Homo sapiens: one gene and its partners. The protein of the gene in region 2 purifies or fractionates together with the protein of the main gene of each other region. This does not show direct contact. Each region holds a gene or a part of one and is shown on either strand. Other genes may lie near its edges.

Region 1 (3,444 bases), on a different chromosome or scaffold from region 2:
TTTTTTTTTCTCTGTGGATTGGCCTATTCTAGGTATCTCTTTTAAGTAGAATCATATAGTATTTGTCCTTTTGTGTCCAGCCCCCTCATTTTTTGAGATGAGGAATCAGGCCCAGAGAAGGCAGTGGCTCACCCAAGGTCACATCGCAAACCAGAGGCAGAGCCAAGACCAGAACCCAGGTTTCCTGACTCCTAACAGGTCTTGCATCCCCAGTAGTGAATGAGACACTGCTTTGACTTTCTGTAATCTTGGTTTAGCCCCTTCCTTTCTCTGGGCTCAGTCTGCTTCCCACCACTCACCCATTCTTTCTTTATCATCTCCCTCCAAAGCCTCTTGTCCTCCTGCCTCCTCTTCTCCTTGGCTGGTTCCTGCCAGCAAATGGAGTGGCCCTGGTCCATGCCAGGTTTTCCTCTTCTGGGTCCGGAGCTCACTATAGTATTCAGCCCTCAGTCCTCCCAGGATGTTCTTCCCAGCACTGCTGCCTCGTGCGGATTTTCCCGTAACCTCAGTAACTGGCTTCTTGTCCCCCTGCTTCCTACCAGGGAAGCCTTCCTGTCCGCGTCTGTGGTTTCCCAACTCTGATATTTGCTCTCAAATGTGGTGGTGTCCTGGTTCTGTGTTTATTTATTTTGTGTTTTCTCACACACACAAAAAAAAGCCTCTTCCTCCAATGCATCAGGAGGCACCAGCCCTGCCAGCCCTTCTCACTGGGCTCACCCTGCCCCAGCAACCCCCCGGTGCCACCCTTAAGCCACACTGTCTTCTCTGTAAGCAGCCTGCCAGCAGCAGCCCCAGCACTTTGCAATGGGCGTGTGTGTGGTGGTGGGTGGGGGGGGCTTGGATCCCTCCTTTTTCCTCCCCTGCCCTGCCCAGGCCCAGATGGCCTTGACTGTAAAGCAGGTGCTGCCTGACAGGTTCTTCTCTCCCTGTCTCTGGTCATTGATCCATCTCTTTGTCCATTCAGTATCCAACCATCCTCTCCATTCTCCTCTGGACCTCACCACTCTCAGAGCTGCTTGTCCTGGCAGAATCTACAGTTCACCCCAACTCTATGCCTTACCCCTCCCAACCCAACAGCATTTGCAGTTTGCAAAATATACAGACCCAAGTCCTGAGGGGACTGAGGACATGATGCTGGGCCCAAGTCTCCTGCTCAGGGCTTCTCTCCAATGCCAGCCCTGCCACTCCTTCCTCACCCTCCTTGGAGCCTCCTCTGCTGCTTGTCTATCCCAACGGCCCTGCTCCCCTCCCTTCCTGCCCTTCACCAGCTTTCTGGACACCATGCCCTGAGGAAGGGACCTTTGGTTTTCTCTAAACATCTTTGAAGGGCTGAGGCAGTCAGGGCTGGCTGCCTTGTCACTCTTTATTTGGAAGCCACTCAAACCATTCCCAAGAAGAGGGACCTCAGCTGGCAATCTGGAAACCTGGCCCAGGTCTGGGCAGATGTCTTCACTTCTCCTACCTTCCCAGTCTTGTGATCCTGTGATGAGCACCAGGATGGCCCTGTGGTCCCTAGAGCACCCCTCATGCTGTAGGGTCCTGCAGCCCCATCCTTTCTCTACTGGGCCCTGGTATCCTGGCTCCTCTCTCAGCTCTGCCACTGATCTCTGTGCCTTAGTTTACTTCTCTGCACGGGGGACTCACCCCAAGACCATTTCCAGCAGCTTCCCAGGTGATGTGGTGCCCCAAGGCTGGGCTTTGCCAGCTGTGGCCCAGCTCCTTAGTGCTGCCCAGGAGACACCAGGCTGCTCAGAATGAGGTGACTGCGGGCACCATTCTCAGCCAGTGGTTCTTGTATTGCATTCCAGCAGCAGGAATATCACCTGGGAACTTGATAGAAGTGCAGATTAGCAGCCCCACCCAAGACCCACTGAATTAGAGCTTGTGGAGTGGGGCCCTACAAGCTGGGGTTTTAAGGAGCCCTCCAAATGATTCTGACGCATAAGAATATGCCAACTGCTGATCTGGGCTAGCCATTAGTAGAGCCTGGGGAGGGACTGGGACTGGCTAGGCCAAGAACAGGTGGAAAACACCAGCCTTATCTGGACTCCTGAGATTGGGAACCACCACCAACAAAAACCAACCCTATAGTCGCTCCTCTTGGAAGAGGAAGAGAAGTTGAAGGGCCTGGAGAAAGCACACATTGTTTGTTTCCCTGCTCCTGCTCACCTCTCTCACTTGTCTTGGTTTTACAAAAGGCTGTGTGGATGGTGCCAGCCAGGGAGGGGGTGGGAGTCCTGGGGAGGCAGGAGGCAGAAGACCCTGACTGTTTCTCCCTTGGGAACCTCACCATAGGCCAGATAGCGCCTCTTCAAACTGAAAGAAATCTTAACTCCACAAAGAAAGCATCCTAAATCCCCAGTTCCTCCTCCTCCCAACCCCAGGGATACCTTGTAGACAGTGCCAAAAAACAGCTCCAACCCCCAGCAGCTGGGAAGAGAGCCAGAAGCTGCCCTTCCTCCTCATCCTGGCCCCTCCCCAGCCCCCGCCAATACTGTGAACCCCCTTCCCACTCAGCCTGGTTTCCTGGTGAGGGTCCTGCAGTCATGGGCCCTGGGGGACCCCCAGGGCAAGGCCCATGGGAGGGAAGGGACCAAGGGCATCCTTGGGCCAACTGTCCACCTCTCTTGTCCACTATTCTCTCCTTTCCACTTCTGTCTTCAAAAGGCTCCTTCCTAGGATGGATCGGGTGCTAGGACAACTGCAGTCCAATCCACCAGCTCTCCCTGCCCCTGTGTCTTATTTCAGACATGAGAATAACTGTACAGTGTAAACTTATAAAGCGTTTTTAATGGTTGTAGATTGGAAATAAAGTATGTCATATGAACAGCTGCTGTGGACTTGGCCTCCTCTCTGATTTTTCTAATGAGGTGGGTGGGGGCCCCAGCGGATCTGAAACCTAACTTTTCCCCACTCCCAGCTGCCTGGGAAGTGGGGAGCCCAGGGAGGCCACAGCCAGCTGGCTGGTTTGGAGTCACTTGGGAGGGGCCACCAGGTGTTCTGGCTGCTGCCTGCTGATACTTCAGCGTCTCCCACACAGTGTGATATGACCACTGAGAAACAAATGCAGTCTTCAAAAAGAAGAAAAATAGAATTGAACTTTTCTACAAAAGACTTTAACAATTTTATGAAAAAAAAAAAGACACTTTTAGGTGTGTGTCAATTGTCTATTGAAGCGTAATTAATTATTCCGAAACATTTATTATACCCCACAGATGCTATGGGTCAGGAATTTGGGAGCTGGGCAGTTCTGATTCAAGGTCTCAGGAGGTTGCAGTCAGTTGTCAGTCAGGCTACAGTCATTTGAATGCCTGATGAGCTGGAAGACCCATTTGCAAAGTAGCTACTTATGCCTGGCAAGTCATTGCTAGCTGTTTGCAGGAGGCCTCAGTTCCTCACCATGTGGACCTCTGTAGGCTGTTTGCGTGCCTTCACAACATGGCG
Region 2 (4,156 bases):
TGAGATAATATCTCGTTGTAGTTTTGATTTGCATTTCTCTGATGATCAATTATATTGTGTACCTTTTCATATACCTGTTTGCCATTTGTATGTCTTCTTTTGAGAAATGTCTATTCAGATGTTTGGCACTTTTTTTTTTTTTTTTTTTTTGAGACAGGGTTTCACTCCTGTCATCGAGGCTGGAGTGCAATGGTGCAATCTCGGCTCACTGCAACCTCCACCTCACGGGCTCAAGCAATTCTGCTGCCTTAGCCCCCCAAGTAGCTGAGACTACAGATGCATGCCACCACATCCGGCTTACTTTTGATATGTTTTGTAGAGACGAGGTTTCACCATGTTGCCCAGGCTAGTCTCCAACTCCTGGGCTCATGCGATCCACCCACCTCAGCCCTCCAAAATGCTGGGATTACAGACGTGAGCCATCGTGCCTGGCCATTTTGCACATTTTTAAATCTCAAAAGGCCAATCTACAATAGTGGTGTTATCTGTAGGAGTAACTGGGGAAGTTGCGTGTCTTGTGACCAATCCACATCTTAGCAGAATTCAGGCTCCTCTCCTCCCGCTAGCTTGGTGGTCTCTCATAGGTTTTACAAAGGCAGTTGGGTTTTGGAAAAGGGCTATCATTTGAACTATAACCTAAATGTCTTCCAAAGTTAGCTTGGCCTAAGCCCAGGAATAATGAAGGCATCTTGACAGCCAAAGGCGCGCAGAGTTGGGGGTTTGGTTAGATTAGACCTCCCCCACTGCTATAATTTTCTCACTGATATAATTTTTGCAAAGGCAGTTTCATTACTGGTGTGGTTCTATTTATTTGTTTTTCACATCTACTATAGTTTCTCCTTTATGAAGTTGGTTACTGTATTATTTGGTGCACTGATATTCAAAACTGTTATTTAACCCTATGAACTGCAGCTTTTAGCTTTACAAAGCGTCCTTTTTTGCTGTGCCTTCTGGTCTGAACCCTATCTTGTTTGATATCAAAACCTCAGCACGCCTGCGTCTCTGCTGGGGTCGGACTCTGAGTCAGTTCTACAGGCCCTGGGAAACTGGGCGTCCAGGCTCCGAGGATGGTACTGAACCTGGCGCAGCCGTGGGAGGGTGAACCAGGTGCCGCTGGCGGAGCCCCCTCCCAGCCTTCCTTTCCCGTCAGGCTGTGCCCCTCTCTAGATCCGCGGCAGCTGGAAGCCAGGCCTGTAACGAGGGAGCCTTCTCCGAGGATTGTGGGAGATGTAGTTTTTCCGGCGCCTTCGCGTCCTGGCGCATCGACGCAGGACGCACTTCCGCATGCGCCGCACTCCCGGCCTTAGTCGGGTGCGCGCGTGCAGGGCTGTTTCCGGCTTAGACTCAGTGGACCGGAATCTGGCCAGCGGGTGTACCTGGCTGAGTCTCTGTGGCCGCGGAGGCGCGGAGCTAAGCGGCTCGGATTATCCTGGGCAGACCAGAGACTTGACCAGCTAAACACTTCCGTCGGTCCGGGGCGTGGACGGGGCCAGATCAGCCTCCTGCTCTCCCGAGTCAGGGCCACGGAAAGGCACAAATCCATCCGTGCGACTCCTGGTACCCAGACCGGGAGGTTGTCTAGTCACGCGCGGTCTGTGTTGGGCGAGAGCTGAGGAGCCGGCGTCCCTGCCAACGACTCGGCCCCGGGACGGTCAGGAGCCTGGGGCCCTGGTCCCGCACCTGTCTTCGGGCGGACGCATCCCTCACGGTCTCTCCGCAGCCCGCGGGTCCTGCCCCCGCAGGCAGCGCGCGAACGTGGGCGTGGGGATGGCCACCAGTTTCCGGACAGCTTCGTGCTGGGTAAGTAGAGACTTTCCGTGTTTAAAATTCGACTGGATACTGAGGGTGGCCACGTTAATCTCTTCAGGGTTACTCCGGGAACTGAACTCACATTCAGCTGTAATTGTGTGCGTAGTTTACTAGACTACCCTCCCCACCAAACCAAAGCGCCTCTGAAGCTCGCCCAAGCTCTGGCCCTGCAGAAACGTGCCTGTGGTATTCTGTGACGGGCAGTTATACTGCACTTCATGGCCAGCTGCGGGCCCTGAAGTCTGAGGATCCTCCATCATTTCATGTTTTCTACACAAAGTTGTCTTATGGAGACCCTTAGAACTTAGCTGGAGAAATGATCAGTTCCTCCTTTTTCGTTTGGCCAAATGCTTGTTTATGGAGTGTCCTTTTGTCTGCTGGACTCTAAGGCTGGTGCTGGCAATGCAGAGATAAATTATGTATGTTCCTAATTTTAGAGGAGCTTTGGTTTGGTGGAGAGGGTAGTCTAGTGAACTATGGACGCAATTACAGGTGAATGAATAGGGAGAAAAGGCTAGGAGCGGAGCTCGAGAGTCCGAAAGGTAAGGGGCGGGCCAGTGGATCATCGGGACTTTATGAATTATTGATGGAGTGAACCAGAGGGGAGTCTTTACAAGTGATTTGATTGCCAAATCCTTTGCCCTCGGTGAGTGGTGTTGACGACGTTGCCGGATGTGGTGCTCTACCATTGAGCTATACAGCCGGAGACTAGGAATGCTATTGGAAGAGGGACCCTGGGAATGACTTTCGCAGGTGTTGAATATCCAATGCCTGTATTTCAGCCTGTAACTCACATGGGAGGTCTAAACTGGAAATACATAAAGACACCTTATTGTATTCGTGGAAGCTCAGAGTGTGACCAACTGGAACCCTCAAGAGGACCGAGGTGAGGACTCAGGTTAATGAAAGGAAAGGACACACGGTGGAGAAAGGCTGTTGTGCTAAAGAAACGAGAGAAAGTTAGGAGTGGATTTCTCCCCCTGTGAGTTTGTTCCTTTGTCAGAGATCAGTTGACTATATTTATATGGGTCTATTTCTGGGCTCTTTATTGAGTTCTATTGATCTATTTGTTGTTTCACTAATACCACACTGCCACACTGTCTTGATTTTTGTAGCTTTGTAATAAGTCTTTTTTTATTTTTTTGAGACGGAGTCTCGCTCTGTCGCCCAGGCTGGAGTGCAGTGGCGCGATCTCGGCTCACTGCAACCTCTGCCTCCCGGGTTCGAGCGATTCTTGAGCCTCAGCCTCCCGAGTAGCTGGGATTACAGGCACATGCCACCCAGTCCGGGTAATTTTTGTATATTTTGTAGCGATGGAGTTTAGCCATGTTGCCCAGGCTGGTCTTTATAGTAAATCTTTTGTTTTTTTTTCAAGGCAGGATCTCACTCTGTTGCCCAGGTTGGAGTGCAGTGGAACAGTCACAACTCACTGCAGCCTCGAACTCCCGGGCTCAAGGGATCCTCCACCTCAGCCTCCTGAGTAGCTGGGATTACAGGCATATGCCACCACATCAGGCTAATTAAAAATTTTTTTTTTTTTTTGTACAGATAGGGTCTCACTGTGTTGCCCTGGCTGGCCTGCAACTCTTGGCCTCAAGCACTTCTTCCTCCTTGGCCTCCCAAAGCATTGGTGGGATAACAGGTGTGAGCCACCATGCCCAGCCTATAAGTCTTGAAGTCAGGTTCATTCTCCCAAATGTATTCTTCTGCTTCCGTATCCTGTTAGCTAATCTAAGTCTTTTGTCTGTCTGAACTTTATAATCAGTTTGTCAACATCTGCAAAATAACTTGCTGGGATTTTAACTGACAGTGCATTCAATCTGTAGATCAAGTTGGGAAGAGCTGAAGTCTTGAATATTGAGTCTTCCTATCCATGAACATGTTATATCTCTCTATCTAGTTCTTAGTTTTCATTCAGCAGTGTTTGGTAGTTTTTCTCATATAGATTTTATATAGTATCATTATATATTTTGTTAGACTTACACCTAAGTATTTAATTTTTGTGGGTGCTACTGTAAATGGTATTGTGTTTTTTATTTCAAATTCAGCTTACACCTGTGTACAGGAAAGGGGTTGACTTTTGTATATTAACTTTGTATCCTGCAACCTTGGTATAATCATGTAGTTCCAGGAGTCTTTCGGTGAATTTTTTTTTTTTTTTTTTTTTTTTTTTTGAGACAGAGTCTCGCTGTTGGCCAGGCTGGAGTGCAGTGGCACAATCTCGGCTCACTGCAACCTCCACCTCCTGGGTTCAAGCGATTCTCCTGCCTGAGCCTCCTGAGTAGCTGGTACTACAGGCATGTGCCACCACGCCCATCTAATTTTTTTGTATTTTTAGTAGAAATGG
Region 3 (3,648 bases), on a different chromosome or scaffold from region 2:
TTTGGGGGTGGGGGAGGTGTGGGGTTATGGCTGCTAAAAGCATTTTCAAAATAGGCTCATAAATGCCAACTGATTAAATCCTCCTGAAAAGCCTGTGGAAACAGAGAACATAATTAATATGTTGACAACGAGCACTCCGGCTTGTCTGACTGTCTCCGAGCACTCGAGCAAAACACAGTCTTGGCAGCCTGGCAGGGAAGGAACACACCAGCGCTTTACCAAAGTCCTCAGCATTAAGAAAGTGCCTGGGTTCAACCTACAACATGGGAGAAAATTTTTGCAACCTACTCATCTGACAAAGGGCTAATATCCAGAATCTACAATGAACTCAAACAAATTTACAAGAAAAAAACAAACAACCCCATCAAAAAGTGGGCGAAGGACATGAACAGACACTTCTCAAAAGAAGACATTTATGCAGCCAAAAAACACATGAAAAAATGCTCACCATCACTGGCCATCAGAGAAATGCAAATCAAAACCACTATGAGATATCATCTCACATCAGTTAGAATGGCAATCATTAAAAAGTCAGGAAACAACAGGTGCTGGAGAGGATGTGGAGAAATAGGAACACTTTTACACTGTTGGTGGGACTGTAAACTAGTTCAACCATTGTGGAAGTCAGTGTGGCGATTCCTCAGGGATCTAGAACTAGAAATACCATTTGACCCAGCCATCCCATTACTGGGTATATACCCAAAGGACTAGAAATCATGCTGCTATAAAGACACATGCACACGTATGTTTATTGCGGCATTATTCACAATAGCAAAGACTTGGAACCAACCCAAATGTCCAACAATGATAGACTGGATTAAGAAAATGTGGCACATATACACCATGGAATACTATGCAGCCATAAAAAATGATGAGTTCATGTCCTTTGTAGGGACATGGATGAAACTGGAAATCATCATTCTCAGTAAACTATCACAAGAACAAAAAACCAAACACCGCATATTCTCACTCATAGGTGGGAATTGAACAATGAGATCACATGGACACAGGAAGGGGAATATCACACTCTGGGGACTGTCGAGGAGTAGGGGGAGTGGGGAGGGATAGCATTGGGAGATATACCTAATGCTAGATGACGAGTTAGTGGGTGCAGCACACCAGCATGGCACATGTATACATATGTAACTAACCTGCACAATGTGCACATGTACCCTAAAACTTAAAGTATAATAAAAAAAAAAAAAGTAAAAAAAAAAAGAAAAAAGAAAACAGATTAAAAAAAAAAAAAAAAAAAAGAAAGCCTTCCATACCAAAATTCAAACCCCTCCTTTATCAGACATTGCCCTAGACTACTCAAGCCTAACATAGACTAGTTCCCAAGCTTTACTCCCTGCCCCCATTTATTGCTCCTTTATGCTACAAACATGATTGCAAGAGGGAAAATGTAATTTTTAAAATTCACTTTGGTAAAAGGGATTCCAATGATTTCATTACCACCTTAAACTTTTGTGAAAAAAAAAAACTCATCACTTTAAATTATTAAAGTGTATATTTAACCATTATTGTCATCCAGGTACACTTTCAACAGTTTTGTTTCTATTAAGGCTGTAATTATTTTATAAGGAAACATTAAATATTTACCATAATTAAAGAGAAAAAAAAAAAAAAAAAAAAAGAAAGTGCCTGGGTTTTATGAGAAGCCCAGGCCTTTGGATAACTGAAGTGCTCACCTGAATTTCTGAATACTTCCAAATGTATTTGAGTTTATCAGAGGTCAAAGGACAACAAGAGTGCTTTTCTGTCTGTGTTTTCACACAAAAGCCAGCTACCTGGATTGATTTTGCATTTTTCACCTAGTCACCCAGGCACCATTTGATGAAGGTGGAGAAGGAACAGAAAGCAGAGTCAGGGACGACCAAATTTGCTCTGTTACAGCACAACACAAGGTGTCCGCTTCTCTGTTGACACTGACTATTTAAAAAAATACAGGCCAGGCCGGGCGCGGTGGCTCATGCCTGTAATCCCAGCACTTTGGGAAGCCGAGGCGGGCAGATCACCTGAAGTCAGGAGTTCAAGACCAGCCTGGCCAACATGGTGAAACCCTGTCTCTACTAAAAATTCAAAAACTAGCTGGGCGTGGTGGCGGGCACTTGTAATCCCAGCTACTCCGGAGGCTGAGGCAGGAGAACTGCTTGAATCTGGGAGGCGGAGGGTGCAGTGAGCCGAGATCACGCCACTGCATTCCAGCCTGCACGACAAAGCAAGACTCCGTCTCAAAAAAAATAAATAAAAATAAAATAAAAAATACAGCAGCCTGGCTAAAAGCCAAGATAATTCCACTTAAATGTCCTGATCCGAAGAATATCCTCCTAAGGTTTTGCTGGACTTATTTTTCTATTGAATTGGGCTTTGGTCATTCTAGTTCAGAAACTGTCACAGTCTTGTACAACAATGATGACAGCACTTACTTGGAATGCTCCAGAATATAGCAACGTAAAATTTGTGGGCCGAGCCTCTTATCAGATACATTGGAATAGATGAATGCTATACCTAATCCTGAGAGTTAGTTCTGTGCAGTGCTCCCTAACAAAGCAGCAGGTCAAGGACGTACTTTTATCTACCCTCTTTAAAAAGTACCCCACGAGGCACAGAGGCTCAAACTTGTAATCCTAGCACTTTGGGAGGGCAAGGAGGGAGGATCACTTGAAGCCAGGAGTTCAAGACAAGCCTGGACAACATAGCCAGACCCTGTCTCTATAAAAAAATTTAAAAATTAGCCCAGCTTGGTGGTGTGTTCCTGTGGTCCCAGCTACTTATCAGGATGAGGCAGGAAGATCACTTGAGCCCACGGGTTCAAGGTTGTAGTGAGCTATGATCATGCCACTGCACTCCAGCCTGGGCCACGGAGCAAGACCATCCCTTCAAAAAAAAACCACAAAAAACGGAAAAAATACCCCTGAAAATAACAAAAAGAGAAGTTTTGATTTATAAAGGGCACACGCTAACCACCACTGCAAAGGCATGACTACTGCCTCTGCCACAGGGGGTCCCTGAAGCTCTGGGCCCAATTTTGCACATGTGGGCAGGCTCCACGACCTGTAGAAAAGTCCATTAGGATCCCTGCGTTTCCTTCCCGAATTGAACTATTGTCATTTAAGCTTCTGAGTGGCCAAATGAGTACCTCACATGCATACACGCAATCATCTGGTTTGCTAGCCTCCTTCACAACCCTCTTCTCTCCCCTGCTGTCGGAGGAACAGTGGGGAGGTGGCCTCAGGCAGAGTAAACGGATGCAAGTGACACCTTCTCCACAGTAAATGGCAACTGAACAGTCCCCACAACTGAAACACTGGCAGTGGGATTTATGTGACCATTCGTACACAGGCTAGTGGAGAGACGGGCATGACGGCCCTCTCACCTGAAAAGAAAACAGAGGGCCCCTAGAAAAGCTCACCACAAGGAACATTTTGAGCTACGAAAACAACTCAGAAGCAGTGTGCTCGGAGGAAAGCAGCCTCGCTGGAAATAGGGCTGCATCCCGGTGCAGTAAAATGGGCAGAGGCTCTGGGGAAACGCAGGTGCCACCTCTTACTCACTCTATGACCTTGGCCAAGTCATTTCTGTTTTAGGTTCTCAGCATCTCCGTCTGTGAAATACTAGTTATGATCATGATACCACCACCACCAC

The links.
Region 1: the proteins of ZNF26 (region 2) and MTCL2 purify together in Homo sapiens (affinity purification with mass spectrometry; one large-scale study listed by BioGRID and IntAct). This does not show direct contact.
Region 3: the proteins of ZNF26 (region 2) and MTCL1 purify together in Homo sapiens (affinity purification with mass spectrometry; one large-scale study listed by BioGRID and IntAct). This does not show direct contact.

The regions. Positions count from the first base shown.
Region 1 is NC_000020.11:36,776,830-36,780,273, reverse strand, and holds the end of MTCL2 (microtubule cross-linking factor 2), read left to right. Parts: 3' UTR 1-2,442; coding exon of another isoform or gene 2,443-2,500; 3' UTR 2,501-2,827; downstream 2,828-3,444. UniProt on the Homo sapiens protein: Microtubule-associated factor that enables integration of the centrosomal and Golgi-associated microtubules on the Golgi membrane, supporting directional migration. Preferentially acts on the perinuclear microtubules accumulated around the Golgi.
Region 2 is NC_000012.12:132,985,074-132,989,229, forward strand, and holds the start of ZNF26 (zinc finger protein 26), read left to right. Parts: upstream 1-1,293; 5' UTR 1,294-1,767; coding exon 1,768-1,800; intron 1,801-2,591; exon of another isoform or gene 2,592-2,695; intron 2,696-4,156. UniProt on the Homo sapiens protein: May be involved in transcriptional regulation.
Region 3 is NC_000018.10:8,708,446-8,712,093, reverse strand, and holds part of MTCL1 (microtubule cross-linking factor 1), read right to left. Parts: intron 1-3,648. UniProt on the Homo sapiens protein: Microtubule-associated factor involved in the late phase of epithelial polarization and microtubule dynamics regulation.